Regions from separate parts of the Homo sapiens genome. Here regions 1, 2, 3, 4 and 5 are each reported to be linked to region 6. Evidence: microRNA targets listed by miRTarBase, many of them from high-throughput screens and not tested one by one. Region 6 holds a microRNA gene; each other region holds the end of a gene's coding sequence.
The links. The annotated mature microRNA hsa-miR-6727-3p reads UCCUGCCACCUCCUCCGCAG and lies in region 6 at 1,844-1,863, opposite strand. An mRNA with a match to its seed (bases 2 to 7 or 8) in the 3' UTR can be bound and repressed. Matches are read on the target gene's strand: a 7mer-m8 pairs with bases 2 to 8, a 7mer-A1 pairs with bases 2 to 7 and ends in A, and an 8mer does both.

Region 1 (5,074 bases), not on the chromosome of region 6:
AACCAAGCCACTGGAAGCTCCTGGAGACTCGAGGCAGAGCGAATCTGGGAACAGGGCAGGAGTCCCAGAATGGGATGTTGAGGATGGGGGTGTCCTGGGGCTACCACAGGGAAGGACCCGGCGCAGAGCTCCCTCCGGAGCCCGGCACTGCGGCCCGCGCCCTCTACTCCCCGCGCGCCGGCCAACAACCCTCGGCGCTGCCCCGCAATCTTCAGCGCTGCCTGGTGAGGAGCTTTCAGACGTGGCTGCGGTCCCAGGGTGGCCGGCGGGAGCCAGGGAAATGGGAGAAGGAAGGAAGGAGCAGGTTTTGCCCCCAGCTCCCTCTCCCCACCCCCGACCGAGGGGCCATGTCTCGGGGAGGGGCGCTGGCCGAGGGCAGAGCAGGAGGGCCCAGGTGGGCTGGGGCTCTAAGAGGCGCACCTTTTAGCCGGGGATGTCAAAGGACGCTGGCAGAGTCACTTCTCATCTAACTGACCACAAATGAACGTTGTAACCCTTCCTCACCCCCCCAATCGCCAGAGAACCTGGGAGCTCCTGGGAGGACAAAGGCCCTAGTGAAGGAAGTCGAATCTTAATCTTGGCCCTCCTCGCTCTTGGGGGCATCCTTGCAGCCAAGGGACTTGGAATCCAAACCCTTCCCAAGGCCCCAACCTCAGCCCTAAGCCAAGACCCAGGCACCTTGATGACACAGGAATCCGTGCTGCCTCCCGGTGCAGTGTCCCAGCTGGGAGGAGTTGAAAGACCAGGTGGCCTTAGGAGCTGTGCCCTCCCTGCCCTAGCCTCCGCCCAGAGGCGCAGGCTTGATAACATGTTCCAATGAATACAGGATATGTTTCAGTAAATAAAAGCTCCCCACCCACCCCTTACAAATAACAGCTCAGCCTGGCCTGGTGGCATATGACTGTAATCCCGGCACTTTGGGAGGCAAGGCAGGCAGATCACTTGAGGTCAGGAGTTCAAGACCAGCCTGGTCAACGTGGCAAAACCCCATCTCTACTGAAAATACAAAATTTAGCCGCGCATGGTAGCACATGCCTGTAATCCCAGCTACTAGGTAGGCTGAGACAGGAGAATAGCTTGAACCCCGGAGGTGGAGGCTGCAGTGAGCGGAGATGGGGCCATTGCACTCCAGACTGGGTGACAAAGCGAGACTCCATCTCAAAAACAAAGAAACAAACGGGCAGAGTCCAGTAATCTGAAAAGGATAGAGCATTGGGAGGTCCTTTAATCCATGGTGGTATCTGAAACGAGGAGTCCCTGCTGCTGGGAGTAGAAATTAGCAGTCTTTCCTGGCTGTGGTTTGGCAATGAATTAAGATCCTTAACAATGGTCATAAGTTTTCTGAATGTATCTTAAGGAAATAAACCAGCAACAATGATTTCTACACAAGGTTTATAAAAGTGTTGTTTGTGATACTAAAAAGGTTACATACAACAAAAAAGATTAGAAAGATGTGTGCCAGAATGCCAACCATAATAACTTCTGTGATCAAACTGCTGTGATCCCAGCACTTTGGGTGGCCAAAGCGGATGGATCACTTGAGGTCAGGAGTTCGAGACCAGCCTGACCACCAGGGTGAAGCCCTGTCTCTACTAAAAACACAAAAATTAGCCGGGCATGGTGGTGGGCACCCGTAATCCCAGCTACTCGGGAGGGTAAGGCAGGAGAATCACTTGAACCTGGGAGGTAGAGGCTGCAATGAGCTGAGATCATGCTGCTGCACTCCAGCCTGGGTAACAGAGTGAGACTCTGTCTCAAAAAAAAAAAAAAAAAAGAAAAAGAAAAAGAAAAGAAAAACCACCTACTGGGTACTATGCTTATTACGTGGGTGATGAAATAATCTGTACACCAAACCCCCAGGTTGTACAATTTAGCTATATACGAAACCCATACATATACCCCATGAGTCTACAATAAAAGTTGGAAGGAAAAAAAAAAAAGAAATAATTGCTTTATTAGCCTTACATGATGGAATATTAGGGGGGCCTCATCTGACTTAAGCCGAAACTGTACTAATCATTTGGCAAAATCAGGAGTCTTTCTGCCTCCAAATATTCAGTAATAACATCAAACCTTAACTTAGCTATGGGTCGGAGCTGAGTTAATAAAATCCTCTATATTTCTTTTTTTTTTTTTTTTTGAGACGGAGTCTAGCTCTGTTGCCAGGCTGGAGTGCAGTGGCGCAATCTCGGCTCACTGCAACCTCCGCCTCCAGGGTTCAAGCGATTCTCCTGCCTCAGCCTACTAAATAGTTGGGATGACAGGCACGTGTCGCCACACCCAGCCAATTTTTGTATTTTTAGTGGAGATGGGGTTTCACCATGTTGGCCAGGATGGTCTCGATCTCCTGACCTTGTGATTCACCCACCTCGGCCTCCCAAAGTGCTGGGATTACAGGCGTGAGCCACCGCTCCCGGCCTCTTGCTTTTTATTTACCTCTTGCAGCTATGCTGTGATTCAGAGTCAGAAACTATCAACATCTGGTCTGTAAATAATTTCATATTCACCAGACACAGTCATAATTATCCAACACGTAGATTTCACATGGCATGTGAATCCCACTGAAAACTCATCTACCTGGGGAAGAACTAGGGGACTTTCACCAAAGACCTCATGGAAGTTCCAAGGTCGTTAGGCAGAGCCTTGTAAAGCATGGCTGTAGATGAGTAATAAAGACAGGTGTGTGCAACCTCTGCCCTCCCTATTCTTTGCCATTCCAAACCCTTTCCCTCGAAAAAGGTACATGTGATCTTCCATTTTGACTTTTTTATTTATTTATTTATTTATTTTAACAGATAGGGTCTCACTCTGTCACCCAGGCTACAGTACAGTGGTGCAATCATAGCACACTGCAGCCTCAAGCTCCTGGGCTCAAGTGATCCTCCCACCTTGGCCTCCCAAAGTGTTGAGATTACAGGAATGAACCACCATGCTCGGCCTCATTTTGAACATTTTAATTAGAAAGTTACAAAACATCATGGGTTCTTTATACAAGATTTGCATTAGAATAATTTAATAAAATGCAAACCAATGTTTATACGTATCTTGTCATCTTTCCATATCTCATTGCCTTATGTGAATTTAAACAAGAAACTATTTTTCGTTTAGATCTTAAGAAAAAAATTTAGGCATATAAAACAGCCTGAATATTAAAAAAAGACAAGGGGGTCAGTGTTAGGGAATTCCTCTGCTTGAATACTTCAAAATAGCTTTGTTTCCAAAACTGTTTTAGTAAGCCTAAAGGAGCACTAAAAACGACAACTGATCTCCAAAGTAAACTGAGGCACACACTGAGGGGTGTGTTTCTGGGTGGGCATGAAGCATGGATCACCGGGGCCATGTCCTTCCAGTGGCAATGACCTGCTTGGGATCAGGAAGCAGCTCCATGTGTTCTTGGAGGAGACTGCCCACATCCTCAGGAGGTGAATGGGCTGAACAAGCCATCTTCCGTGTGCAGAGGCCCCTTCCAGCCATCTCTGCTCCTGCAGACACTTGCTTAGCCACGAGGGTAATCCACTGGACTGCTTGGTATTCTGCTAGTGGCCAGGCTGGACTGGCCTGCCCAGGCCAGCATCCTCTTTACACTCTTACTGCTTCTTGTGTCCTTCCCAAAGCTGCCCGCCCCACTCTGATGGGCACCCTGTTCCTTAGTCAAGGGAAACGCCAGCCGCTGGGCTTCCCGCTAGCCTTCCAAATAAACTTGTGGTTGTCAGGCAGCGGGAGCCAATCCCAACACCAACCCCTGTCGCCCCTGTCCTTTGCAGGAAGGGGGAGGGCTGTCAAGGAGGAGGAGGGCCAAGTGCCCAGGCTGTTGGGTGAGGGCCAGAAAGAACCTGTTGTGACAATGCTTTCTTCCCCCAGTGCTGCTGAGGGGGCTGAGAATGAAACAGCCCCTCTGACTTCAGCCTGCCATCCAGGGGCACAGACAGAGGGAAAAATAGGGCAAAGAGCCCAGTCACAGTACGGCAAAGATCCAGGGCTGCTCAGCTGAGCTGATGACAGATGACTGACTGTTGGGCTGGGGCAGGTGGACGGTCCAAGTGTCCTTCAGCGGCCCTCCCTGATTGCCTGTGCTAATGCGGCCCTTGCCCTTGGGCCCTGCCCCTCCAGGTCTCCAGTTAAAGGCCTCAGCTCTGGAAATCAAAGCTGTGAATGGGAAATGGAGAAGCCCAGGGGTGCAAAGTGCTAGTGATTGGCATGTTTGTCACAAGAGAGCCCTGAAAAGAGTAAGAGTGGCTCACAACAGAAGGTAGAAATGCACAGTGTGTTCCTCAGTTCAACAGAGGAAAAGTCTCTGCTTGACCAGAGATGGGACTCTTTCCAAGATGTCTGAACTGACTGCAATTTTCTCCTGAAATTCAACGCTAAGGCAAAGAAGGAAAACCCAAAAAGCTAATTATAGCCTCCAGGAACTCTCAGACCTTTCCACAAACTAGTCCCTGACAATTCTGCAGGAGCTCTGAAGATACGGAACTGTGTAGAGCAAAACCGGAAAGAACCGTTGTCTCTGAGGGAAAAGCACACAAGCCCGCAGGTGTCCGCTGGGCTCTTTCAAAAGGTCCTAAGATGTTCCCAGAAGATGACAATGAGGCAGCCACGGTCCTGCTGAGTCTTCAGAAATGGCCTTTCTAGGATAAGTGCTCCTTACACAAGTCTCCCCGGGGCGTCACTGTCACAGGAATGGTGGTCACCACCTGATTCTGAAACACGAAGATCTTGATTCTTTCAAACACCCAGAGGAAGATAAGCAGGATGCTGACATACTGCACCCAGGCGAACTTTACCATCTCCCAGAATCCTGGCTGATAAGTATGGACAGTTAAGGAGTGAAGGGCCACATGGTGTTAAGTATGAAGAGAAAATCCAAGATGGAATTGGCTGTGGCAGAGGTATCTCGAAAGGAGGCAGGACCTCTGTCATGTACACACCCAGATGGAAGCTGACCTGAACTTGGCCAAATGGTAAAACCAGCCACATTTGATTTGAGCTATTTATATACCAAGCCTGATGACCAACCTCCTAAACAGACAACTATGCCAAACTAGATTGATCATGGACTAGAGATATCCTGAGC
Region 2 (5,074 bases), not on the chromosome of region 6:
TTTTAATTTTTTAAGGAAACCCAGTACTGTTTTCCATAGTGGCTGCACCATTTGGCATTCCCACCAACAATGTACAGGGTTTCCATTGGTCCACATTCTTGCCAACATTTGTTATCTTTTGTTTTTTGATAATGGCCAACAGGCATATGAAAAGGTGCTCAATTTCACTAATCATTGGGAAAAAGCAAATCAAAACCACAATGAGATATTAACTTACACATATTAAGATGGTTATTACATGTGTATCTTTCCGGCCAGGCTCTGAGCTCACAATCACAGGGATTGTGTCTTTTTTGTCTTTATCTCCAAAGTCTAGCATAATGCTCATATGTCAATAATTGTTCTGGTAATTTTATCCTAAATTTGCCCTAAATATAATTTCAAAAGAGCTTTAGGGGTAATAGGGCATGAAACAAAATTAAACTATGTTTTGAATTTCTTTCTTCAATACTCAGAGACAGAGAAAATTATAACATTCAATTACATATTTACTTTTATTTACATTAGTAAGGCTGTAAATTATGAATGTAAATGTGCTTAGCTAGAACAAATATTGCTCAGAATAAAAAAGATATACAAATATAATGCTAATATACAATATAGGCTATCATAAAAATTTGTATTTGTGTACACACATACATAATTGGCTACATTCGACAATGGGGTTCATTTGATTCCTCCGTAGTAATTAGAACAGGAGACTTAACTGATTACAGCCATGATGCGGTTACTTAAAAACACACACACACACACGCACACAGGCACAGGCACACACATGCACACCCCACATAAATAAGTTTGGGAAAATTTTAAATTTTCTCACTTAGGACTTTTCAAAGCCATCTCAAAGGAGCTTCCTCAAAACATTTAATGTTGGCATCACCCCACAAGTACTCAGAAATAAGTGTTAAAATAGAAATCCAATCCAGTAATGGGAAACTGACTTAGATTATCTTATTTGTTTGTATATTTATTTGTCATCTATCTCTCTTATTCACTGCTCTATTTTCAACATCTACAATAGTGCTTAGTAATGAATACACATGCAGTACACAAAGGTGCTAACACAATATATGACTAATGATGAGGGCTATGCACATTTATACAGAATGAGAATTATTTAGTCCAAAAAATATCTGGAAAGCATAAATGCTGTAATTGGATAAAGCTAAAATTCTATTACTCTATTGAAATCAGATATCAAGTGATACTTTTAAACTAAACGTGAGGTAATGGTTGAAAAGGGATTAAAACACTGGAATTTGGGCATGCCAAATCCAAATCATTGAATATTCAATTACAGATCTAATAAAGCAGGTAGACCATGAATAGGATAATTGCATATGGAGACCTTGGTTCCAGTCGCGACTATGTCACTGTGAGATTTTGGCCAATGAGGTACAATTTCCTCAATTATAAAATGCATTAGAAATAGCTGCCCTCTCTTCTTTACAGAAGTGTTGTAAGAAACAAATACAATCGAATTTATATACTCTTATTATTTAATCATCCATTACAAGCAAAATGTAAATGTGATTGTCCTTACTACAATCAACACTGAAAACAGTGAATTCAGGATGTTGCTGTGGCAGGCCAGAGGTGGGTCTCTTGAGTCTCCATTGAAATAACTTGCTGGCCAGCAAGTTAGTGGACAGCGTCCAGCTGCGCCTTCTGGATTGGCCACAGCATTTGCAGGTCTTTTTTTTTTGTTGTTTTTCTTTTTCCCAGGATAGCCCCAGACAATGACTTAACAGGATGGGGCACTAAGACCCAGACATTACTGCCCAGCATAACACTGTCTCCTCTCTGGGCAAACTTTGCTTTGGGCCTCACTATGAGCTGGCCAAAACTCTCCCAGAGCTGTGTCTGAATCTCATGCTTTTTCTCCTCACTCCCCACACCTCCCCTCTTCCCTCTCACAGGTGGGAGCCTGAAAGCCCACCCCATACCCATACTTCTGTTTCTTCTCCCTTTTATCTTTCTCAAACATTAACCTCCAATCAGTGTTTGCACTTCTAACTTTGTCCTGGTGTCTGAGTTCTAGAAAACCCGACACCCAATCCCTCAAACCCCAATCACCAGAAGCAGCCCATGTCAGTATTTTCCATTTTATATTTTTTACAGAAGTGTTCAAATACACAAAAATATTGTAAGCTTTTTATTGCAAGATGTTTAATTTCTTTTTTTTCTTCCTTTTCCCCTCATTCTTGCTGTCATCTTAAGGATGCTGAATTTCTACTTCTTTTTTCTTCTTGGAATTATATGTTGTATTTGTGAACAAGAGACGATAAAATATTATTTCAAACGTACACCTTATCAAATGCTAACCCCCACTTGACATTCACCTATTTTATCAACAGCAATGGTTGAGAGGACTCATAGACATTTCTTGAGAACATAGCATTGAATGGCATGGCCTCAATGAATCAGTGAGTTGGAGGTATCAGTAATCTCCCAATAGCTTTTTAGGGTGAGGGTCAGATTCCTTCTTAATGTGAGCCTGGAGCTCTTCTGTAAAGTCCTTGTTTCCATACTGTCCCTGGCTTGTTGAATTCCAGTAGAGAATGACCAGCAACCATACAGCTTTTAGCTTTGACCGGACCAGTGAGTTCTTTCGTATCCAAGCTCCAATTTAAACACTCTTGTCTCTTGGTTCTATGTAATCCTCTGCAGGCATACTCTACGATAGGCTCAGCTGGGTCTCAAAAGTTCCAGCTTTACAAATAGCTTCTTCATTAAATGCTCCTGATGTAACTTATAGGCATCACTTCACATTGACCTTGTGAAAGGAGAACACCTGAGCAGGTATTTGGATAGTGGGTAGATGCTAAGAGCTTTTCCCAGAGAGCTCATTGTCTGCTGTCTTACAAAAGAGATAATCCTGCACATTGTTTTTATTGTTTTCATTTGCTTCTATTGCCTTTTAATTATTTTTGGTTTTCTTTCTGCATCAATGCTACAATTACATAAATACTCTATGAATTTCCTTTGTAAGCTTTGGTAGCATTTGACATCATGATATACTGTTATTTTCGACAGACAGTATGTTTTTTAAAAAAGCTTATTCCCACTAGAAGAGTTTATTTATTTTAAGGTGGTAAATCTGTATTTTCAAATTGTTTCTATCTTTCTCTCTCTCTCTCTCTTTTTTTTTAAATTAGCTTTTCAACTTGATTGTAAAATGTCACAGCGCAGAGAATGTACCTGGGAAGATGAGCTTGCATGGAGCCAGGCAAAGCAGATTACAATCTGGGCTCTCTTCTCATATTGAGTAAGATCAATAGCTACTTCGAGCCTCTGTTTCCTCATCTTTATTGTAAAACAATAATAAAATTAAATCCTCTTAACCTCTACAGGGAATAATATCATGGCCTGTGCAACGTTACTGCAAGAATTAGCACTAATTTGAGGACAGTTTTTCTCTGTCTTTGAATGGAAGTCCATAATTGGAATTGTTAATACAATTTTTAGTTTCCCTCAGACATATGCTTGCCTGAAGGCTAGTGTAGGATATAATCTGAGCTCTGTACTATGAATGTGTTAATTCCATTTGACTTAAAGCTACTTGAAGCAGATGATGCTGGAGGCTGGTCCCATGACCGTTTCACACCCTAGTCAGAGGATTTTCAGTTTCTGTCTTCAAGGTGACATTCACAATTGCTGGTTTTCCATACCACATTTCTTCCCTATACTTGAATTTCTAGGATTACAATAAAAGAGAGCTAATATTCACCAACCCAACACCTTTTTTTTTTTTTGAGACGGAGTCTCTCTGTCCCCAGGCTGGATTGGAGTGCAGTGGCGCGATTTCGGCTCACTGCAAGCTCCGCCTCCCGGGTTCACACCATTCTCCTGCCTCAGCCTCCCGAGTAGCTGGGACTACAGGCACCCACCACCACGCCCAGCTGATTTTTTGTATTTTTAGTAGACATGGGGTTTCACCATGTTAGCCAGGATGGTCTTGATCTCCTGACCTCGTGATCTGTCCACCTCAGCCTCCCAAAGTGCTGGGATTACAGGCATGAGGCACCGCACCCAGCCCAGCATCTTTAGTGTAAGAAATCATCCACACATTGTATATATGTAAGGCCCAACAACTGACATAAAGGCAGCGCAGTGTCCTGTAAAGAGCACAGATTTGGGAATTTCCCATAGACTTGTCTTGCACTGACTGCAAACATTTAAGCAACAGCTTCTGGTGCCCTTTGCTGCTCGCCTGTATCATGAGCATAATGGCTATGTTTATAGTATTTTTTGTTGTTGTTTTTTAGAAGATACTTTTAAAACCCTAGTTTTTATTTTTATTTATTTTCCAGTGGCCAGTTACTAGAATGTTTTTATTTTTTGCATGTTATAAATATTTTCTCTGTGGTTTGAACTTTCAAAACCGTGAGTGATTTTCCACTCTCTGTTATAGAGTGTTTTTCTTTTCTCCAAAGTTAAAAAAGTTGTCCCTTGAAGGCACAGAAAATAAACTTTTGAAATCAATGAAAACAATGGAAGCGCTGAATCCAGTAAACCAAAGATAACACAAAGACCAGGCTACAGAGGCAAGAGGTGTCTGGTGAGAGGGAGTGGCTGAGTGAGGTGACACTGTTTCCTGTGGACCCCAGTTTTATCTTTCCCATCAATTAGTATAATGGGAAAATTCTTGTAGTGTTCGATGATGTCTTCTACTGAATCAAACTTCTGAAACACAGAAAAGAAAGTTAATGACTTTTAAAATATCTTTTGTGTCTGTAGGTTAAAGTATAGCCAAGGTGCTTCATTTTGCATGGGGAAGAGGTGAACCAATTTAACAATGTTTGTATGGTAAAGGTGTTTCAGGAAGTGGTTTTTGGTTTGTTTGTTTTTTTCTGAGACGTTGTTTTGCTCTGTCACCCAGGCTGGAATGCAGTGCCACAATCTCGGCTCACTGCAACCTCCGCCTCCCGTGTTCAAGTGATTCTCCTGTCTCAGCCTCCCAAGTAGCTGGGATTACAAGCATGCGCCACCACGCCCAGCTAATTTTTGTATTTTTAGTAGAGACAGGGTTTCGCCATGTTGGCCAGACTGGTCTCGAACTCCTGACCTC
Region 3 (5,074 bases), not on the chromosome of region 6:
CTCCTTTGCATAAATGATAATTAATATCTTGGGGACTCTCTTATTAACTGTATTTTCATTTACTTCTCCAGATGCTGGTTAACCTCCACACGCTTGATTTTCAAGCATCTGATCTTTGATAACTTCCATATTAAGAGACTTCATTTCACCATCTAGTATCCCTGTACTTTAATTGAACTAAAGATTTACAAGGACACTCCATTTTCCTATTTACAGAGAACCTAGTCTGTACCTGCCATTGTTTTACATACATTTTCATGTCACAAAATTTTATTTCTAAACAACACCCTCATTTATGTATTTTCTAAGTGTTCACTGGAGTAACACAGAGAAGAAATGCAGTAAACATATAATTTGGATTAAAATGTATGGAAGGAAAAAATCCTTAAAGTAAAAATCATATACAAAAACAAAAAGTCATTTTACTACTATTGGCTCATGGCTGTAATCCTAGCACTTTGGGAAGCTGAGGCAGGAGGAATGCTTGAGGCCAAGAGTTCAAGACCAACCTGGCCAACATAGCGAGACCCCACGTCTAAAAAGAAAAAGAAAAAAAAAAAGAAAAGAAGCTATGGAGAATATGTTACACAATACCATAAACTGAACAAGACATGAATATAACACAGCCTTTGGAAAAATGCCCTTTGGCTAAAATTGCTTGATCATATTATGTAATAAACTTTTCCACAAATTCATTTGCATTGAACTACTGTAAAAATATTTTAGGCAATTTAAACAGCATTTCACAAATATTTTCAAGAATGACGTTGTGTAATGGGCCCTATGGGTTCAGCAGAAAGGAAGAGTATTATCTACTATTATGAAGAAAGCGGAGGTCTTCCCTAACAAAGAAGTTAGAAATTTCTTTTGTTTTTTTGAGAGTCTCACTCTATTGCCCAGGCTGGAGTGCAGTGGTGAGATCTCAGCTCACTGCAACCTCCGTCTCCCGGGTTCAAGTGATTCTCCTGCCTCAGCCTCCCTGGTAGCTAGGACTACAGGAGTGCGCCACCACACCTGGCTAATTTTTGTATTTTTAGTAGAGATGGGGTTTCACCATGTTGGCCAGGCTCGTCTTGAGCTCCTGACCTAAGGTGATCCACCTGCCTCGGGCTCCCAAAGTGCTGGGATTACAGGCATGAGCCTGTAATTTCTGGCCATGCCTGGCCAGAAATCAGAAGTTGCAAGAGTAAATATTCAGTGTTGTACTACAGTCAGTTTCCATTTTGTGATTTTTGTCTTATACCACCATTTATACCTCTGCACTCCCTCTTCTTATTCTGCCCATCTGGCCAAGCTGATAATGTCCGTGTTCCCTCCTTTGGCACTAGATGGAAGTTCAAATCACGTGTGGGATCCTCACCCCAACCCACCCTTTTATTAAAGGTTATTACCATAACACCCCAAGCAAGTTATTTATCCCTGCTCTCTCAAGCCATTTTGGACCAGTTTGGGAAGTCAATCCTGCTTCTCACAGAAAGCCTCATTATGCAATACACATTTCCCTAAAACTTCATTGTTCAGCATCCTCATTTTCCATATCTAAACCAAACTGTAAATGGAGTTCAATACACTTCCTGTGGAGAGGTGACAAATTAACATTACCAAAAACATGATAAGGCTAAATTTATGAAACTTCTAGTTTACCTACAAAAACAAAATTTCCATTATATATGTTCATTTTTAAGAGGAAACTCATGAATATTAGTCTTGTCAAATTATGTGAGCATAGCATTCTTAGTGTTATTTTTGTTATTCTGCACTATTTATAATTTCATAATTTTTTTTTTTGAGACGGAGTCTCACTTTCTCGCCCAGGCTGGAGTGCAGTGGCAATCTCGGCTCACTGCAACCTCCACCTCCTGGGTTCAAGTGATTCTCCTGCCTCAGCCTCCCGAGTAGCTGGGATTACAGGCGCATGCCACCACATCCAACCAATATATATATATTTGGTATTTTTTAGTAGAGATGGGGTTTCACTGTGTTGGCCAGGGTGGTCTCGATTTTCTGACCCCATGATCCACCCGCCTTGGCCTCCCTAAGTGCTGGGATTACAGGTGTGAGCCACCACACCCAGCCAATATTTTTCATACAATTGTTTTTTTTGAGACAGGGTCTCGCTCTGTCACCCAGGCTGGAGTGCAATGGCGCGATCTTGGCTCACTGCAACCTCTGCCTCCAGGCTCAAGTGATCCACCTGCCTCAGTCTCCCTGAGGAGCTGGGACTACAGGCATGAGCCACCCTGCCTGGGTAATATTTCTATTTTTTTTGTAGAGACAGGGTTTTGCCATGTTGTCCTGGCTGGTTCAAACTCCTGGACTCAAGTGACCCCCCTGCCTTGGGCTCTCAAAGTGCTAGGATTACAGGCATGAACCACCACACCCAGCCCATACACTTTCTATATTTGTATTTTCACTTCATGTAAATAAAGATGCATGCCATAGTTATTTAGCACACAAGCATGTAAAAATATAATATGGTATATATTCACCAACACTGTGGCAGCTTTCAGAGTGTAAGAGTATGAAAACTGCACTTTCTATGGGATTTTCATTATATCCATATAAATATTCTAAGGCAGAGTGTAGAGAGAATAATTCAAGTGCAGAGTATGATTACATTTTCCCAAAATTGTATGTTGATTCCACAAAGAAAAAAAAAATTGTTCTACATCCTCCAACCTAAAAGACTGAGTGTATTGTTATTATCTGCTATGAAGTATCCTACTGAGGTAGGATAAAATGATGTTGGTACAAAGAATGTGATTTGTTTATAGTTATAAGAAAACGTTGAATTTTTTTTAGCAAAACATTATGTCTGTGACACATTCTTAATAAAACTGTAGCAAAATGTAATTCCAGCAATTAGTGTGAATTCTACTAAAAACAAAACAAAACAAAAAAAACCATGGTATTCTGGTTTTTCTGACCAAGCTCTCCACTCTAATAACTGTTACCTCTTCAATTTCAAAAATAAGCCTATTTTTCATCAATCTCTGCTATAAAACAGCTATTGCCATTCAGTAGAGAAAGTGGCAACCATTTCCCCTGCACTATTCCCATCACATAATCAGTCACTAATAACTTATTACTCTCCTCTCATAAAAATTCCAGTGTCCTGAGGTCTTGGCCTGCTCAATGCAGGTAGAGCCTTACTTCCCTAAAACCCATGGTGTCTTTCTCTCAGAAAAGCACCCTGAACACAATCAGTATGATGATTGATATCATAGTTTTACATTATTTTCTGCCCCAAAACCATGGTCTCTCAATTGAGAGAATATTTAATTTTACAAGGCAGAGTCCTCCTTCTTCAATAAACATGGATAAAAATGATCCTCATGTAATGAAGTAAGCCTTTCCATACTGTGGTTCTTTCCCAGATAGGCACCACGAAAGGTGCTTAAGGATGCAAAATAGCCACAGATCCATAGTTCAGGTTGAAAGTCACAAACAGTAGCCTTTTTGAGAAACCTCAAACAATGGAATAAAAGATTTTATAACCTGAAGGTAAGTAGCCATTTCCAAATGTCCTTTGACCTTTGAAATATATAATGTCTTAAGTTTTACCATATTGGAACGTGTAATTATTGTGCAGTTTATCATTTTAAAAGTGAATCAAAGAACTAGAGACTGAGTCACTCTTTGTATGAATCCTCACCTACAGTTACAGTCTTAGAGTAAGAGCTTCAGGATGCTCTTACACATTACATTTGTGTGGTTCCATCAAATACGTAGATTTTAATGCCTGCAAAGCTGTGAGGCCTGAATAAAGCCTCTGTCACACACAGTACATTTATGTGATTTCTCATTATTATGGACTCTTGGATGTCTATTAATACTTGAACTCATGAGGAGTTTGCCACAGTCATTGCATTTTTTTTTTTTCCTTTAAGATGGAGTTTTGCTCTTTTTGCCCAGGATGGAGTGCATTGGCACGATCTTGGCTCACTGCAACCTCCGCCTCCTGGGTTCAAGTGATTCTCCTGCCTCAGCCTCCTATATAGCTGGGATTACAGGCGCACGCCACCAGGCCTAGCTAATTGTGTACTTTTAGTAGAAATGGGGTTTCGCCATGTTGGTCAGGCTGGTCTTGAACTCCTGACCTCAGGTGATCCACCTGCCTCGGACTCCCAAAGTGTTGGGATTACAGGCATGAGCCACTGCACCCAGCCAGTCATTGCATTTTCAAGGAATCTCTCAGGCATAAATTCTCTGACGTTGTCAAAGGAATGAATTCTAACTGCAAAAGTTACCACCTTCATTTGTAAGGTTTCTCTCCACTATGAATTCTGTGATGGCTTGCAAGGTTTGAACTCTGACTTTAGAACTTTCCACACGTTACATTTGTAAGGTTTCCCACCAGTATGGATTGTCTGATGGGTAGTTAGGCTTGAACAGATACTAAAGGGTTTCCCACACTCATATGGTTTCTCTCCGGTATGAATTCTCTGATGCCTTGCAAGTTTTGAAGTTTGACTAAAGGCTTTGCCACACTCATTACACTTGTAAGGTTTCTCTCCAGTATGAATTCCCCGATGTCTTGCAAGGTGTGAATTCTGAGTGAAGACCTTCCCACACTCATTGCATTTGTAAGGTTTTTTTCCAGTATGGATTGCCTGATGGGTAGTTAGGCTTGAACGGACACTAAAGGCTTTCCCACACTGATTACACTCATATGGTTTCTCTCCAGTATGAACTCTCTGATGCCTTGCAAGCTTTGATGTTTGACTAAAGGCTTTGCCACATTCATTACACTGGTAAGGTTTACCTCCAGTATGAACTCTCCGATGTCTTGCAAGGTGTGAATTCTGAGTGAAGACCTTGCCACACTCATTACATTTGTAAGGTTTTTCACCAGTATGGATGACCTGATGGGTAGTTAGGTTTGAATGTTCACTAAAGGCTTTGCCATACTCATTATACTTGTAAGGTTTCTCTCCAGTATGAATTCGCTGATGCCTTGAAAGGTATGAATTATGCCTAAAGACCTTGCCACATTCATTACATTTATAAGGTTTCTCTCCAGTATGAATTCCCCGATGTCTTGCAAGGTGTGAATTCTGAGTGAAGACCTTGC
Region 4 (5,072 bases), not on the chromosome of region 6:
CTACTCAGGACCGCTAGGGAACGCTAGAGGATTGGCCACCGTGCTTACGCATGCGCACACTCTGGCACGCACAGCGTTTACGCGCTCACTGAGACTCGCGCATGCGCAGGTCTCGCATACAGCAGTGCAGTGCCGTTATTCCAGTCTCCGTAGAAACGCTGGGACTATGGCGGAGCCGACTGGGCTGTTGGAGATGTCCGAGCTCCCCGGAGATAGCAGTGTCCCACAGGTGGGCACCGCGAGTGGCGTCAGCGACGTACTGCGGGGGGCAGTCGGCGGCGGGGTTCGGGTGCAGGAGGCTCGGGAAGGCCCAGTGGCCGAAGCTGCGCGGTCCATGGCGCGGATGCCGGGCCCTGTGCCCGGGCCCATCCCCAGCAGCGTCCCGGGCCTGGCCTCCGCGCCAGACCCCCATCAGCAGCTCGCTTTCTTAGAAATTAACCGGCAGCTGTTGTTCCGCGAGTATCTGGATGGTAGCTCCATGATTCCGGTCAGATTACTACGGGATTTCGAGGAACGCCGCAGGCTGTTTGTGGAAGGCTGCAAGGCGAGGGAAGCAGCCTTTGACGCGGATCCCCCGCAGATGGACTTCGCTGCTGTCGCGTTTACGGTAGCGCTGACTGCCTCCGAGGCCCTCAGTCCTCTGGCCGACTGAGTCGGCTGTGATGATGACATTGGTGGCAAGGAATAGCCAAGTGACCCTTTTGGGATCAAAAGAACAGGCAGGCTGTGCCAGTTTAGTTAACTCAGTCATTAGGGGGAATGCAAACTGGAAGGGAATACGGCAATGTGCAATTGAAGGAGGAAGCACACTCCGAAATGGAAACAGACAAGACTGTTGAATCTTGTTTTCTTTCTTCTTTTTTAGTATTATTTAAATAGAGAAGGGAGTCTCGCATCCCTAGGCTGGTCCCGAACGCTTGGACCCGAGCGATCCTCCCGCTTCGGCCTCCCAAAGTGCTGGGATTACTTTACAGGCGTGAGCCACCGCGCCCGGCCGAATCTTGTTTTCAAACAGGTCCCAAGACACTTCTGACTTAGCACTTTGTTAGCAATGCATTTTCCTGCATTTGTGAAGAATCCTTCATGACTTTCACCATAAAGGATGGTTTTGCAAAGATATGAGAAAAAAAAAATGCCAATAACAGAACCCATAGAAATGAACCTAAGTGATGAAAGAAAACAAAGAAATAGAGTTGTCAGGAATCCAGGTGTACCTGAGTTACTAGGATTGGAAGGCTATTGAGAGGACTTTGAAATTTCACAATTTGTGGTCATGTCAACAAATCCTAGTGTAAGATTCATATTTGTGTTTTCTGAGGTACTTTAGATGAACAGTAAATATTCAATAGAAAAAACCACGTATTATATGATCAGTGTTTTCAAGTCTATGTGAAATTGGGTAGGTGTGGAATAAACTTGTTTTTTGTTAATTTTAAGCTTTTTATTTTATTCTAGAATATGTATTCTATTCACAAGACTCAACAAAAAAAAGTATCGGCCGGGCGCACTGGCTTACGCCTGTAATCCCAGCACTTTGGGAGGCCACGGCGGGTGGATCACCTGAGGTCAGGAATTCAAGACCACCCTGGCCAACATGGTGAAACCCCATCTCTACGAAAAATAAAAAATTAACTGGGTGTGGTGGCACGCGCTTGTAGTCCCAGCTACTCGGGAGGCTGAGGCAGGAGAATCACTTGAACCTGGGAGGCGGAGGTTGCAGTAAGCCGAGATCACGCCACTGCACTCCAGCCTGGTCAACAGAGTGGGACTCCGTCTCAAAAAAAAGAAAAAAAGTATCAAAAGATGCTGTGAGAAATCTCTCTTGTTGCTGTCCTTTGCCAAACTCAGAACTATTCCATGCAGGTGCCATTGCTTGTGGCTTGGAGTTTTGTTGTTGTTTTCTTGGTTTTGCTTGTTTTTTGCTTTTTCACTGTACGCCTTTCAGGTTTTCTAATGCATATGCAAATAAACATCAATCTAAATATTGTGCATTTTCCCTTTTAATATCAAGGTAGTTAACTTGCATCACGAGGTATAAATTTTTAAAAATATAAAATCAAGGTAACATATTGTATACCTCTATCAGCATCTTGGGTTTTTTCAGTTATATATGGAGAGATTTATATATCAGGGTTTTTTTTTTCTTTTTTTATATATAGAAACAGAGATGGGGCCTCATTATGTTTTCTAGGCTTGTCTCCAACTCTTGGCTTCAACTGTTCCTCCTGCCTCGGCTTCCCAAAGTACTAAGTGCTGGGCGTGAGCTACTCCACTGGGCGTTTTTTTTTTTACAACTACAATGTAAAGCCTTATCTTAGTATAATGAACTAGACACCTTTTGGACATCTGGGTTGTTTGCAAAATGTTTTAACATTTTCTATGCATTTATACGTGTTTACTCGTTTTCCATAATACACTGTTTTTTTTTTTTCTTTTTGAAACAGAGTCTTGCTCTGTCACCCAGGCTGGAGTGCAGTGGTGCAATCTCAGCTCACTGCAATCTCTGCCTCCTGGGTTCAAGTGATTCTCCTGCCTCAGCCTCTGGAGTACCTGGAACTACAGGCACGTGCCACCATGCCCGGCTAATTTTTTGTATTTTTAGTAGAGAAAGGGTTTCACCGGTTAGCCAGGATGGTCTCGATCTCCTGACCTCAAGATCTGCCTGCCTCAGCCTCCCAAAGTGTTGGGATTATAGGTTTGAGCCACCGCACCCAGCCACCTTATTTTTTGTTTGTTTTTGTTTTTTTTCTGAGACGGAGTCTCACTCTGTCGCCTGAACTGGAGTGCAGTGGCACCATCTCAGCTGACTGCAACCTCCACTTCCCGGGTTCAAGCTATTCTGCCTCAGCCTCCGAGTAGCTGGGACTACAGGTGCACCACTGTGCCCAGCTAATTTTTGTATTTTTTTAGAGAAAGGGTTTCACCATGTTGGCCAGGCTAGTCTCGAACTCCTGACCTCGTGATCCACCTGCCTCAGCCTCCCAAAGTGCTGAGATTACAGGCGTGAGCCACCGCACCCGGCCCCACCTTGGTATTTTTAATGTGTCACCAGAGTGCTGTCCTTGGGGCTCAACCAGTTTACCTTCCATTCAGCCAGGGATAGTTGTGCCTCTCGCCACGGCCTGGCTAATCTGACAGCTTTGGAAGCATCTGACAGTAAAAGATGGTTTCTCACTATGGTTTTAATTTGAATTTCTCTAATTACGAGTGAGGACGCATGTTTTCAAATGCTTAAGAGCCATTTGTTTTCATTTCTCAGCGAACTATCTGTCCATATTCTTATTTTTTATTGGCTTGTAAGTTATGTGTCAGTCACTAAAGAAGTTAGCCCTTTGTGATGACATGGAATATAGTTCACAGCAGTTCAGACTGCTGTGATCCTTTTGCCATGCAGAAAAATGTTGGGTGGGCGTGGTGGCTCACTCCTGTAATCCCAGCACTTTGGGAGGCCGAGGCGGGCGGATCACAAGGTCAGGAGATCGAGACCATCCTGCCTAACACGGCGAAACTCCGTCTCTACTGAAAATACAAAAATTAGCCGGGCGTGGTGGCGGGCGCCTGTAGACCCAGCTATGCAGGAGGCTGAGGCAGGAGAATGGCGTGAACCCGGGAGGCGGAGCTTGCAGTAAGCCTAGATTGAGCCACTGCACTCCAGCCTGGGCGACACAGCCAGACTCCGTCTCAAAAAAAAAAAAAGAGAAAAAAATTTTTAATGTAGCTGTGTATATTCAGTTTATTTCTTTTGCGGTTTCTAGACTTTGAGTCATGGGGCCGGGTGTGGCTCACTCCTGTAATGCCAGCACTTTGGGAGCCCGAGGTGGGCGGATCGCAAGGTCAAGAGATCGAGACCATCCTGGCCAACATGGTGAAACTCATCTCTCCTAAAAATACAAAAATTAGCTGAGCATGGTGGCGCGCACCTGCAATCCCAGCTACTTGGGAGGCTGAGGCAGGAGAATCACTTGCACTCGGGAGGCAGAGGTTGCAGTGAGCCGAGATCATGCCATTGCACTCCAGCCTGGTGACAGAGCGAGACTCCATCTCAAAAAAAAAAAAAAAAAAAAAAAAAAGAAAGGTCTTTGCCACTGCAGGATCATGAAGGAATCTGGTTTTTTGTTTGGTTTTTTTTTTTTTTTTTTTTTTTTGCCTCAGGTTGCACCCTACCTTCCCCCCACACTCATGAATAGTTTTAAGTTTTAAATGTTAACATTACAATTTTTATTCATTTGGAATGTTTTAGGTCCTAGTAGTGCTAGTCCACCCTCATTGCTCTTCTTTTCCAAAGTTTTTCAGGCTGTTCTTTGATTTTTTTTTTCTATTGTGGAACTTTAGGATCATCTTGACTAGTTTCAATTTTTACAAAAGCTGTTAGTATTTTTATATAGGTTGCATTCAATATATATACTGTTGAGTGAGAATTGACATCCTCACGATGTCATCCTATCCAGTAATGTGGTAAGTCTTTTCATTTGTCCCCAGATGTATTTTAAAGTTTCCTTCATATAGGTCTTGCATATTTTTGTTAAAAATATTCCAAGGTTTGTTTGGTTTTCTGTTTGTTGTTTATGGCTATTGTAAATGAGGTTTTATGGTGTGTAAATTTGAATGCTATCTTTTTTTTTTTTTTTTTGGTGCTCTATTAAACTTACTCTATTCTCTTATTGTTTGCAGTAGCTTTTCTTTGGTATACAATCATATCATCTACAAAGAACAATAGTTTTACCTCGTTCTTTTTTTTTTTTTTTTTTTTTTTTTTGAGACAGAGTCTCGCTGTCGCCCAGGCTGGAGTGCAGTGGCACCATCTCGGCTCACTGCAACCTCTGCCCCCCAGGTTCAAGCGATTCTCCTGCCTCAGCCTCCTGAATAGCTGGGATTACAGGCGCCCACCACCACACTCAGCTAATTTCTGTATTTTTAGTAGAGACAGGGCTTCACCATGTTGGCCAGGCTGGTCTGGAACTCCTGACCTCAGGCAATCTGCCCGCCTCAGCCTCCCAAAGTGCTGGGATTACAGGCGTGAGCCAGTGCGCCCAACTGGTAGAGAATGTTGTTAAAGGTCAGATCCGCGTTTG
Region 5 (5,074 bases), not on the chromosome of region 6:
GAAGGTTAGTTTTCTTCTGAGGTGGAAATCTGTTGGAAGGATTTGAGCTGGTGACTGAATATGTGAAGAACTCTGAGGTTGATTTGAGCTTCTTCTTATAAAAAAGACGGAAAACACTGCAGTGTAAAATTCACTGCCACCAGTCCCACCCACATACCTGTTTCTTTTTGAGACCTCAGAAGGTTTTTAAGCATTGCACATTCATCAGTGCGCTGAATCTGTTGTATGAGTAACACGGCACCAGTTTGGCACAAAGATAACACCTTCTTTATCCTTAACTGGATTCAGTAATAAACAGGAATGTGTACACATGAGGAGGAGAAGAAGAATCAGTGTGTGGTGGTATTTTTCGAAGTGTGTATATTAGAGTTAAATATTATTAACAAAATTTAATAATAAGTGATATGTAAAATCAGTAACAAAAATAACATCTTACCAGGTAGTCAGGAGACAGCTTCAACGAGAAGTGGATGATGCCCTGAACAAACAATTGCTGTTAGAAGCTATGCTAGAGATTTCATCAGAACGTCGTATTAATTTAGAAGATGAGGCACAAAGTTTAAAAAAGAAATTAGGCCAGATGAGAAGTCAAGTATGTATGAAACTTAGCATGTCAACAGTTACTCTGTAGCTGGTTAAATAATATCAAGTGTTTCAGGACACTAGTTTCAGTGGAGAGCTTTCTTTTGTATTTTCATTATAATTAATTTTATTAAAATTTGATTATCTTTATAATACATCCATTTCTCAATCTCTGCCATGTTTTATAATTATAAATATTTTTCTTACACTATTTCCCCTTATGAAAGTTGAGAATTACACATCATTTCTCACAGAAGATTAGAGAATTCTTTTTTCTTTTTACAGTATATTTTTAGTGATTTCTTTCATTGCCACGTGGAGACAAGCCAGATTAATTCAGAGGATAATGTCTAATGGAATGTTTCAGAAAATTTTCTTTTTTTAATCTCTACTTTTCTGTGTGAATAAAGACTTGTGCTTACTTATTTCATGGGTTTCTGGTTAACTGGTACAGAAAGTCCATTCTGCAGAATAAATTAGTATTTTGATGAAAATCCTTGCTCTGACTTTATATTGGTCTATAGTCAGAGTCATATGACTATGGACAGTTAGCATTTGCCAACATGTATGTGTCTACTTTCTCTTGCTTAAAACAAAAACAAAAAACTTTACAAATGGGGTTATAGAAGGTCAGCAAAGGGTAGGTTTGAGATGTTTGGGTGGGTCAAGTGGGCATTTTGACAACGTGGCTTCTCCTTTGGCATGTCAATGGACATCCCTGCATTTTAAGATGACACTTTTAAATAAATTATCTCCTAATGATGACATGAGCCCTGCCACTCGATAGGAGAATCTATCTATTTTAATTATTTTTCTGTTTGTTTTAAAATTTTCTTCTGGTTTCCCTGGAAAGGAAAGATGATGCTTAGTTTTAAATGTTAAAAATGGGTCGGGCGCGGTGGCTCACGCCTGTGATCCAAGCACTTTGGGAGGCTGAAACGGGTGGATCACCTGAGGTCAGGAGTTTGAGACCATCCTGGCCAACATGGTGAAACCCCATCTCTACTAAAAAAGATAAAGAAATTAGCTGGGCATGGTGGTGGTGCACGCCTGTAGTCCCAGCTCCTCGGGACGCTGAGGCAGGAGAATTGCTTGAACCTGGCGGGGTGGAAGTTGCGGTGAGCCAAGATGGTGCCACTGCACTCCAGCCTGGGTGGCTGAGCAAGACTCCGTCTTAAAAAAAAAAAAGTGCAAGTTTTCTTGCTACAGCAAAAATTAAATGCAAACAGACAAAAAAGAAATGAAATTATAGTTGATATAGTGGTGTTTGGAATTGAAAAATATAAATGCTTACTATAATTTCCTATGTTTCCCCATTTTACCAATTTTGTAAATTTGAGTATCTGATAAAATAGAAATTAGAAAAGAAAAATACTGTGTTTTAATCCTAGAGCATAGGCAGTAAACTTTTCTGTAAAGGGCCAAGTAGTATTATTTGAGACTTTGTGAGCCATAAGATCCCTGTTGCAACAACTCAACACTACAGTTACAGCACAAAAGTAGCCGTAAACAATATGCAGACTGAAGGGGTGTGGCTGCATTCCAGTAAAATTTAGTTAAAAAACAGGTAATAGGGGCCAGGCACGGTGGCTCACGCCTGTAATCCCAACACTTTGGGAGGCCGAGATGGGCGGATCATGAGGTCAGGAGATCAAGGCCATCCTGGCTAACACGGTGAAACCCCGTCTCTACTAAAAAACACAAAAAATTAGCCAGGCGTGGTGGCAGGCGCCTGTAGTCCCAGCTACTCGGGAGGCTGAGGCAGGAGAATGGTATGAACCCGGGAGGCGGAGCTTGCGGTGAGCCGAGACGGTGCCACCGCACTCCAGCCTGGGCGACAGAGCAAGACTCTGTCTCAAAAAAAAAAAAAAAAAAAAAAAAGTAATAGGTCGATTTGTCCTAGATTATCATTTTTTATTAAAATAGATTGTGATAGTCTAAAAACAGTATTTTATATATAACCATATTTTGTTCATTCATTCACCTATTGATGGGCATTTGGGTTATTTCCACACCTAAAGGTTGTTTTTAATTCTTTGTTTTAGTTGCAAGAAATGCAGAATCAACGCACAGAGATTCTAAGACGTGCTGAGGAGTTGCCAGACCACATGCAAAAGTACAGTTTAAAGCAACATACAAAATATCTTGAGTATTTATAAAGCAAATGAGTAGTGTAGTAGGAGAATTGTATCAGTTAAGATAATAAGTATGTCTATGTGAAGTCAAGGAAAAATTTCAGCTTTAGGCTATTTTGAAATGCATAAATTTTCTACATTATTTTTAATTTTACACATCACCCACAAAACAAAGGTAAAAAAATAACAACAGTTTCTCAATTTTCTACTTTTCAAATGTCTCAGAATTTATATAATTATTCCTTCAGATGTTTGTTCAGAATTTATATGATTTAAAAAAAATTATGTCTGAGAATAATTATTTTAAAATATATATTTTAGGCTTAAAATAGAAAATGCCGTGTTAAAAATTAGAATGAAAAAGCGAGCGGACAAAATTGAGCAGCTTCAGAAAATTTTGGTAAGTTCAAGTTCAATAAGTCAATCTCTTATTTTCTGTCACACTGAAAAGGAATTTTATTTTTCTAGAATATCCCTTGTCCAAAATGTTTGGGAGGACCAAAAGTAGATTTTTTCAGAGTTTGGAATATTTGTATACACCTAATGAAATACCTTAGGGATGGTACCCAAGAGTAAACGTGAAATACATTTATGTTTCATATATACCTTATGCATATAGCCTGAAGATAATTCTACACAATGTTTTACTTTTTTTTTTTTTGCCTGGGGTTGGGGGATGCAGTGGGGCACAGAGTCTTGATCTGTCGCCCAGACTGGAGTGAAGTGGTGTGATCTCAGCTCACTGCAACCTCTGCCTCCCAGGTTCAGGCAATCCCCTGCCCCAGCCTCCCAAGTAGCTGGGACTACAGGTGCGTGCAGCCACACCAGGCTAATTTTTGTATTTTTAGTAGAGATGGTTTCACCATGTTGGCCAGGCTGGTCTTGAACTCCTGACCTCAGGTGATCCACTTGCCTCAGCCTCCCAAAGTGCTGGGGTTACAGGCGTGAGTCATCACATCTGGCCTGTACAATGTTTTACAAAAATGTTTTGCATGTAACAAAGTTTTAACTGTGTTTCCACCACAGCCTGTCACATGAGGTCAGGTGTGGACCTTTCCCGTTGTGGTATCATGCGGGTGCTCAAAAAGTTTCAAATTGTACAGCATTTTGGATTTCAGATTTTCAAGTTAGTGTTGATCAACCCTCCTTGACATATAATAGGGCTACATGATAATGTCTCTTGTTTAACTTAAACATTATTAATAAGATTTGACAGTTTCAGATGCAGCAGGTGTACAAGGAAACATAACTGCAGAAGTAGATGAAGGTATGTTGCCAAAAATTATGAATTAAATTTAAATCATGGATTTCTGAAATAAATATAAATAGTGAATGGGTTGCTTGGTTAACAAATACCACATTAAATACTTTTTCTTATACACATTACTGAAAGATGTGAAAACAAACATTCATAATGAAAAGTATACTTATGCCTCATTAGTTTATCATCTTCAATAGCTTTAAAAAAAGTCCTAAGAAGTCTGTGTGTATCCCTTTTTTTTCTGGCTCTACACTTGTTCCATCTCTATGGAACTGTCAGCTTGCACGCTGAAACTGTTCTCAGAAAACAAAGGCATCATCAACTTCTCAAGGTTATGGTAGTGATTTAAGGCCAAGAGATGCTAGACTCATGTATCAAGCAATTACAGTTCATAAGCAGTCACTTGACCAGTCATATTTTAAGAGAGAGAGAGAGTGTGTGTATGTGTGAGTGTGTGTGTGTGTGTGTGTGTGTATGTGTTTTATGTAGACTTGGTTTCTGGACTCTGTTCTGTTCTATTGATCTCTTTATCTTTATGCCAAAATCACACTGTTATGATTTTTGTAGCTTTGTAATAATTCTTCAAACTGGATTGTATTTTTCCTCTAAATTTATTCTTTTGTTTTTTTCAGAGTTACTGCACATTTCTGTGTCATCTACATGCCATGAGAGTCTTAAAATCAATTGTCAATTTCTACAAAATACCTGCTTGGATTTGGACTGTGATTGCATTATGTCATGGTAAAGAATCTTAATAATGATGACTCTCTCAACTTGTGAATAAGGTATTTTCTTAGATCTTCTTTGATTTTTCTCAACAATACTTTTTAGTTATTATTGTACAGATATTTTGCATAGTGTCAGATATATTCCCAAGAATTTTATATTTTAATGCTATTATAAATAGTATTATTTTTAAAATTTCAATTCCTAGCAGTTTATTTCTAACATATAGAATTACGATTGATTTTTATATATTGATCATGTATCCTGCAATGTGGCAAAACTCATTGGTGCCAGTAACGTTGTAATTGGTTTCACTTGGTTTTCCACATAGATGATTATGTCTGTGAATAAGGATAGTTTTACCTATTTC
Region 6 (5,074 bases):
TTTGAGAGCCAGTCTTTCCTGTATAGACAGGTAGGCTCTGTTCTGGGGCCGTCCCCAGGGGGTGGGGCTGAGGGTGGGCAGGCCCCTGTGCAGTCTTGGCTCTGGGTCGTGGGCGGCTCTGGGTCACAGGTACGGAGGATGACGGCTGTGCTGGTGGGTCACGGGCGGCTCTGGGTCACAGGTACGGAGGATGACGGCTGTGCTGGTGGGTCACGGGCGGCTCTGGGTCACAGGTGGCTCTGGGTCACAGGTACGGAGGATGACGGCTGTGCTGGTGGCCGTGGGGCTGGGGGCTTTGGCACCTGCCCAGGTGAAGACGATTCTGGAGAGCCAAGATCCCCTGGGCAAGCACCAGACACGTGTAGCCCCAGCCCACGGCTTATTCCTCAAGTCAGTGCTGTACGGGAACCTCGGTAAGAAAAACAGGCACGAGAAGCTCCTGTCATGTGCCCAGTGACTACTGTGGCCGAGGCATGGGGTGGGGGGCCAGGGGCCACTGACGGCAGCAACTGGGGGTGAAGCAGCCCCCCGCCCAGGGCTGCAGTCCCTCAGGCCAGCCCGTAGCCCGTCCTGGGCTGGCCCACTCCCTGGTCATGGGAGTGGTCTCAGCGGTGGGGAGGGTGCTGGGCCGGTCTTGCCCCAGGCTGACGCAGGGTCTGGTCCGTCCACAGGTGCTGCCTCCTGCACCCTGCAGGGGCCACAGTTCGGGAGCCACGGATGACCCTGGACACTCAAGCCAAAGTTAGGCCACACCAGGCCCAACCCTGTGCTGGTCAAGCCAGGGCAGTCACAGCTGCTTGGGGCCCACAGCACTGCTGCCTGGTCTCCACAGTAGCCTCCCTGCCCGGGTCCCAGCACCCTGGATGCCCGTCTCTGTCCCAGGCGGGATGGGGCACAGTGCAGGACACAGCCATGTACACCAAGAAGAGAGTACCAAGTAGTCTTTTGTTCAGCTTTTACTGGAAACTGCTGTCTAGGACCACCTGCCCTAACCAGGAATAAAGGCAAGACAGCCTGGAGACCAGTTTGTTTCTTCAGCTGCAAACAGCTGCCTGGGCAGGCAGGTGACACAAGGCCTCTGTCCCCAGGGATGGGACCTGCAGGGTCTGTTCACCCAGGGCACCCACAGTCCTGAAGTGCAGGCCCAGGGTCTGTCCAGCTGGGAGAGGGCAGAGGTGGCGGCTGGGTGAGTTGCCGGCCTCAGCTGGGGGCCTGGGGGAGGCCCTTCTTCAGCAGAGATGTGAGGAAGCTCCCCAGCTCCTCGTCCTAGGGCAGAGGCAAAAGCATTGTGGGTGGTGCAGGACAGGGAGGAATGTTGATACCTGTGTTGACCGCGGTGGGGTGGGGGTCACCCCTTACCTGGTAGGTCCAGGAGACCAGCAGCACCTTGGTGCCTGGGTCCTCAGAAGGGGCGGCGGCCTGGAGGAGGACGGACTCCACAGTCACAGAGCCGTCTGGGAGGTGCTGCACACAGTGGTCCTTCAGGACGCTGTGGGGAGGCTCGGTGAGACCCTGCCTGGCCTCCAGGGCCCAAGGGAGTGGGGGGGGGGCGGGGCCGGGCGCCCACCTCTTGAGGTGGCTGTAGACGCGCAATGCCGTCTCCTGCTCCTTGCGTGTGTCATGCAGGTGCACGCGGCAGGTGAAGCGCAGCTGGTGCTCAGCCAGACCCAGCTCTTTGAGGGCTTGCTCTGAGGACACCAGCCGGAAGTTCTGTGGGGCAGGGACAGGTCAGTGAGCGCAGCAGCGGCCCTCCCCCCTCCAGAGACCGTCCTGGCACTCACGCTGTCCTTCATGATCAGGGTGCCGTGCAGGAGCCGAGGCTTCTTGGCCTCAGGGAGCAGCCCTGCGGAGGAGGTGGCAGGAGCCATCAATGTGAGGGCCGCTCCCAGCCGCCTGCCCCGAGCACCCTGCCCTGCCCTGCCCAGCCCGCATACCCTGCGCCATCTCCCGCTTCAGCAGCCCCAGCGAGATGCCTACGGGGATGCTGGGGCTTGTGGGCAGCGTCACCGTCTCGCCATTGGCCGGCATGTAGCAGTTGACCCCTGGACCCCGGGGGAAGAGAGAGCCTCAGCCCAGGCTGCCCGTGCTGACCCGAGGTGGGCCCCACGCCGCCCGCCCGGCTGCCTACGGAGCTCCTGCTCGATCTTCTGCTTCAGGAACTCCATCTTCTTGGCCTCGCCATGCACCAGCAGCACGCTCTCCGGCTCTGCCTGGCCCACCAGCTGCATGATGCCCTTGGCGTCCGCGTGTGCGCTGAATGACATGTACTCCACCTGCATCTTGACCTCCAGCTACAGAGGCCACGGGGCGTGGACAGTGGTTACCACCAGGAGGTGCCCCTCGGCCCTGCCAGCCCAGTGCGGGGTCGAGACTCACCACCTGCCGCCCCTCCATCTCGAGCTTCCGCTGCCCGCTGAGGATCTTGTGGCCGACGGTGCCCTGCACGCAGTAGCCGGGCATGATGACCTGGGGGCAGGCACAGAGCTCACAGCCAGGGAACTCCAGCCTTGGCACCTCAAGGCCTTGCCCGGGATGCCCCCGCCTGAACCCCTGGAAGCTGTTTCCACCTGCCAGCGGCGCCCGACCAAGCCTAGCTGCAGACTCCAAAGGGCTCAGGTTTTGGCACAAGACTGTCCAGGGCTGGGCTGGGGCTGTTCTGCCCGAGGTGGACAAGCTGTGTCACAGAGACTGAGCAGCTCCAGGCGGACATCGCCCCCGTTCCCCAGCAGCAGCAGCCACGTCCCTTGGCCAGCACGAGGCCAAGCCAGTGAGAGCTCAGAGACAGCATGGGTGGAAGGACAACCCGTCGGCCTCCAGCTTCCAGATTCCCACACCTCACCATGCCCTCACCATGTTCTTTTCGTTTCCGGCCCATTTCCGGAAGATCTGCAGGGACTGCCCAGCGTGCAGCATTCCTGGCGTGGCAAACACAACCTACAGGACACACAGGGCCAGGTGGGGGGTCAGGGCAGCAGATGCCCCCACCCCCACTGCAGGCCCAAGCCCAGACACCTGCGGAAGACAGGAGACCGACGGGTGTGGATGTGCTGGCCGGCCCTGCCGCGGGCCTCACCATCGGTCCTGGGTTGTCAGCAAAAGCCCGGTCGAAGGCCTTGATGTGCTTGAACTCAAACATGTTCCTCTGCACGAAAGTCTTGCGGATCTTCTGGTTGGTCCAGGGGATGAACAGCTTGTAGTAGTGGTTGGCCTTCTCGGTCAGCCCCGTGGAGAAGTAGATGGGCACCTTCAGGTTCATGCGCTCCCTGGGGACCACCGGCCCAGTCAGCACAGTGGCCACAGGGGAGAATGCTGCAGGGCAGGACTCGGCCGGGTCACCCCCAACACCCGTGTCTGCACAGCCCACGCACGGGCCAGGTTGAGTCCAGTCGCGACCACTTGTCCCATTAAGCCCTGCAGCAGCCGGGCTCAGCGGAGAACCAGGAACCCCTACAAGAGCCGCACACGGTGGCGCTGACGGGATGTCACAGGCTTCCTGGGGTCACACAGCACACGAGCGGCCCCCCAGGACAGCAGCAAGCAGGGCCAAGATGCCACCGCTACGCTGGACAGGGCTGCCCACCAACTGGACTGTGTTCAGGCCGGGCCAGGGGCTCCTTAAAGAGCCGTCCTGGCGGCACCTACCAGAAGGTCTCCAGGAGGATGCAGAGCTCCTGGGCGCGGCCCAGCGCGAACACAGGTATCAGCACCTGAGGGGGACACAAGGCAGGAGCCCTGGGCACATGGCCCCTCGACACAGCAGGCAGCGTCCAGTGAGGGCACGGCCAGGTGCCCAAGAGCTGCGGCCTCATAGGGACCTTAGCCTCTCATCTGCTCCCAGTCCCGTCCCAGCCGCTCTCCAGAGACAGAAGGGAGCCGTATGAGAGACAGGAGGGAGCCGCATGAGAGACAGAAGGGAGCTGCATGAGAGACAGAAGGAGCCTGGCCAGGGCTTCGTCCGCACCTGAGGTAGGAGGGAAAAGGGGCTCCCTAGGAAAGGGTCTCTGAGTTTTCCTCCTCAATGTTGAGCAAATCTTCTTCCCTCCCTGCCTGAAAATGCAGTACCCCCCACCCTGAGACCCTGACCCATGCCAAGGGCAGCCAAGCCTGCCAGAAAGACCAGCCCAGCATGGCCGAGGGCCCATGTCCCCACCCCTGCTGCAGCTACCTTCCCACCACGCTCCACGGTCTCGTGGACTTTCTTCAGGAAGTCTCGCTCCCGGCAGCGCTTGGAGTCACGGATGGTCGTGGCGTACGTGGACTCTGTGATGAGCAGGTTGGGGCGGCACTTGTCAATCCAGGCAGCTCTGGAACACGGGGGTGGGGGTGTGAGCCACGATGCACTGTCCCCACGGTTGCAGGGCTGGGTGTGACAAGCTGGACCCCAGTACCACGCCCAGCCGCCTTCCTAGGTCACTCTGGCTGGAAAGAGCCAGCTGGTAAAATGCTGTGGGCAGCACACTTGGGAAGAGAGAGGAGAGACAGAGGCACCCACCCAGACACTTCGGAAGAGCGAGACAGAGGCACCCACCCAGAGACTTGGGAAGAGAGAGAAGGAGGGACAGAGGCCCCTGCCTGGACCCTGTGCCTTCGCGCATTTGGGCCCAGAACGAAGGGGGCTCTCCAGGCCGCACAGGACATGGGAGACACTGCCAGGCTGGCCACTCAAGGGCTGGCACCCTGACACCTGCAAGGGTCCTGAGCTCCAGGGGGGCCCACGGGACAAAAAGACACCTCAGCCTACTTACCCTAAGTGTCGGTCTGGGGTCATGTTATAATCACCCTGGTGAACGATCAAGGATGCCATGAGGAGGGTGCCTCCCACCCCAGCAGCCCCTCCCAAGCCTCAAGCCCTTCCACTGACCGTGTAGACCACAGACTCTGAGCCCACTTTAATCTGGAACATGGCTGCCCCCAGCACGTGGCCTGCATAGTAGGCCTTGATCTCCAGCTCATCATCTACCTGTGGAGGACAGGGCTGCGCTCAGGCTGTGTCCTCACAGCAGAGGGGCGGGGAGTGAGGGAGGCGGGGGACGGGAAGCGCGGGAGGCGGGGGTGGGGAGCGTGGGGGAAGGGG

Region 1: the mRNA of TMEM231 is a reported target of hsa-miR-6727-3p. Seed matches in the 3' UTR shown: 7mer-m8 at 3,906-3,912 and 7mer-A1 at 2,230-2,236.
Region 2: the mRNA of CLNK is a reported target of hsa-miR-6727-3p. Seed matches in the 3' UTR shown: 7mer-A1 at 3,851-3,857.
Region 3: miRTarBase lists ZNF347 as a target of hsa-miR-6727-3p. Seed matches in the 3' UTR shown: 7mer-A1 at 3,979-3,985, 7mer-A1 at 1,877-1,883, 7mer-A1 at 964-970 and 7mer-m8 at 232-238.
Region 4: the mRNA of EID2B is a reported target of hsa-miR-6727-3p. Seed matches in the 3' UTR shown: 7mer-A1 at 1,681-1,687.
Region 5: miRTarBase lists ANKRD62 as a target of hsa-miR-6727-3p. Seed matches in the 3' UTR shown: 7mer-A1 at 1,661-1,667, 7mer-m8 at 2,305-2,311 and 7mer-A1 at 2,343-2,349.

Annotation. Positions count from the first base shown.
Region 1 is chr16:75,535,366-75,540,439 of GRCh38, forward strand. It overlaps TMEM231 (transmembrane protein 231), which reads right to left. Exons shown (of 7, transcript NM_001077418.3): 7 at 1,376-4,809. The coding sequence ends at 4,629. CHST5 (carbohydrate sulfotransferase 5) reads right to left here and starts at 743. Exons shown (of 4, transcript NM_024533.5): 1 at 679-743; 2 at 1-44.
Region 2 is chr4:10,485,925-10,490,998 of GRCh38, forward strand. CLNK (cytokine dependent hematopoietic cell linker) reads right to left here. Exons shown (of 19, transcript NM_052964.4): 19 at 471-4,689. The coding sequence ends at 4,543. It overlaps LOC105374482 (a long non-coding RNA gene), which reads left to right and starts at 3,189. Exons shown (of 3, transcript XR_925387.4): 1 at 3,189-3,271.
Region 3 is chr19:53,136,031-53,141,104 of GRCh38, forward strand. ZNF347 (zinc finger protein 347) reads right to left here. Exons shown (of 5, transcript NM_032584.3): 5 at 1-5,074. The coding sequence ends at 4,278. Among named protein-coding and RNA genes, the nearest start is that of ZNF415, 5.7 kb to the left of the region's middle.
Region 4 is chr19:39,527,897-39,532,968 of GRCh38, reverse strand. EID2B (EP300 interacting inhibitor of differentiation 2B) reads left to right here and starts at 117. Exons shown (of 1, transcript NM_152361.3): 1 at 117-1,982. The coding sequence starts at 167. The coding sequence ends at 652.
Region 5 is chr18:12,127,309-12,132,382 of GRCh38, forward strand. ANKRD62 (ankyrin repeat domain 62) reads left to right here. Exons shown (of 14, transcript NM_001277333.2): 14 at 440-2,456. The coding sequence ends at 631. Among named protein-coding and RNA genes, the nearest start is that of ANKRD62, 36 kb to the left of the region's middle.
Region 6 is chr1:1,310,659-1,315,732 of GRCh38, forward strand. It overlaps MIR6727 (microRNA 6727), which reads right to left and starts at 1,908; the gene lies at 1,844-1,908. PUSL1 (pseudouridine synthase like 1) reads left to right here. Exons shown (of 8, transcript NM_153339.3): 6 at 1-30; 7 at 251-413; 8 at 672-1,019. The coding sequence ends at 721. It overlaps INTS11 (integrator complex subunit 11), which reads right to left. Exons shown (of 17, transcript NM_017871.6): 5 at 4,862-4,960; 6 at 4,746-4,780; 7 at 4,166-4,304; 8 at 3,643-3,707; 9 at 3,074-3,263; 10 at 2,851-2,934; 11 at 2,377-2,466; 12 at 2,129-2,291; 13 at 1,935-2,042; 14 at 1,782-1,843; 15 at 1,568-1,710; 16 at 1,360-1,489; 17 at 942-1,266. The coding sequence ends at 1,201.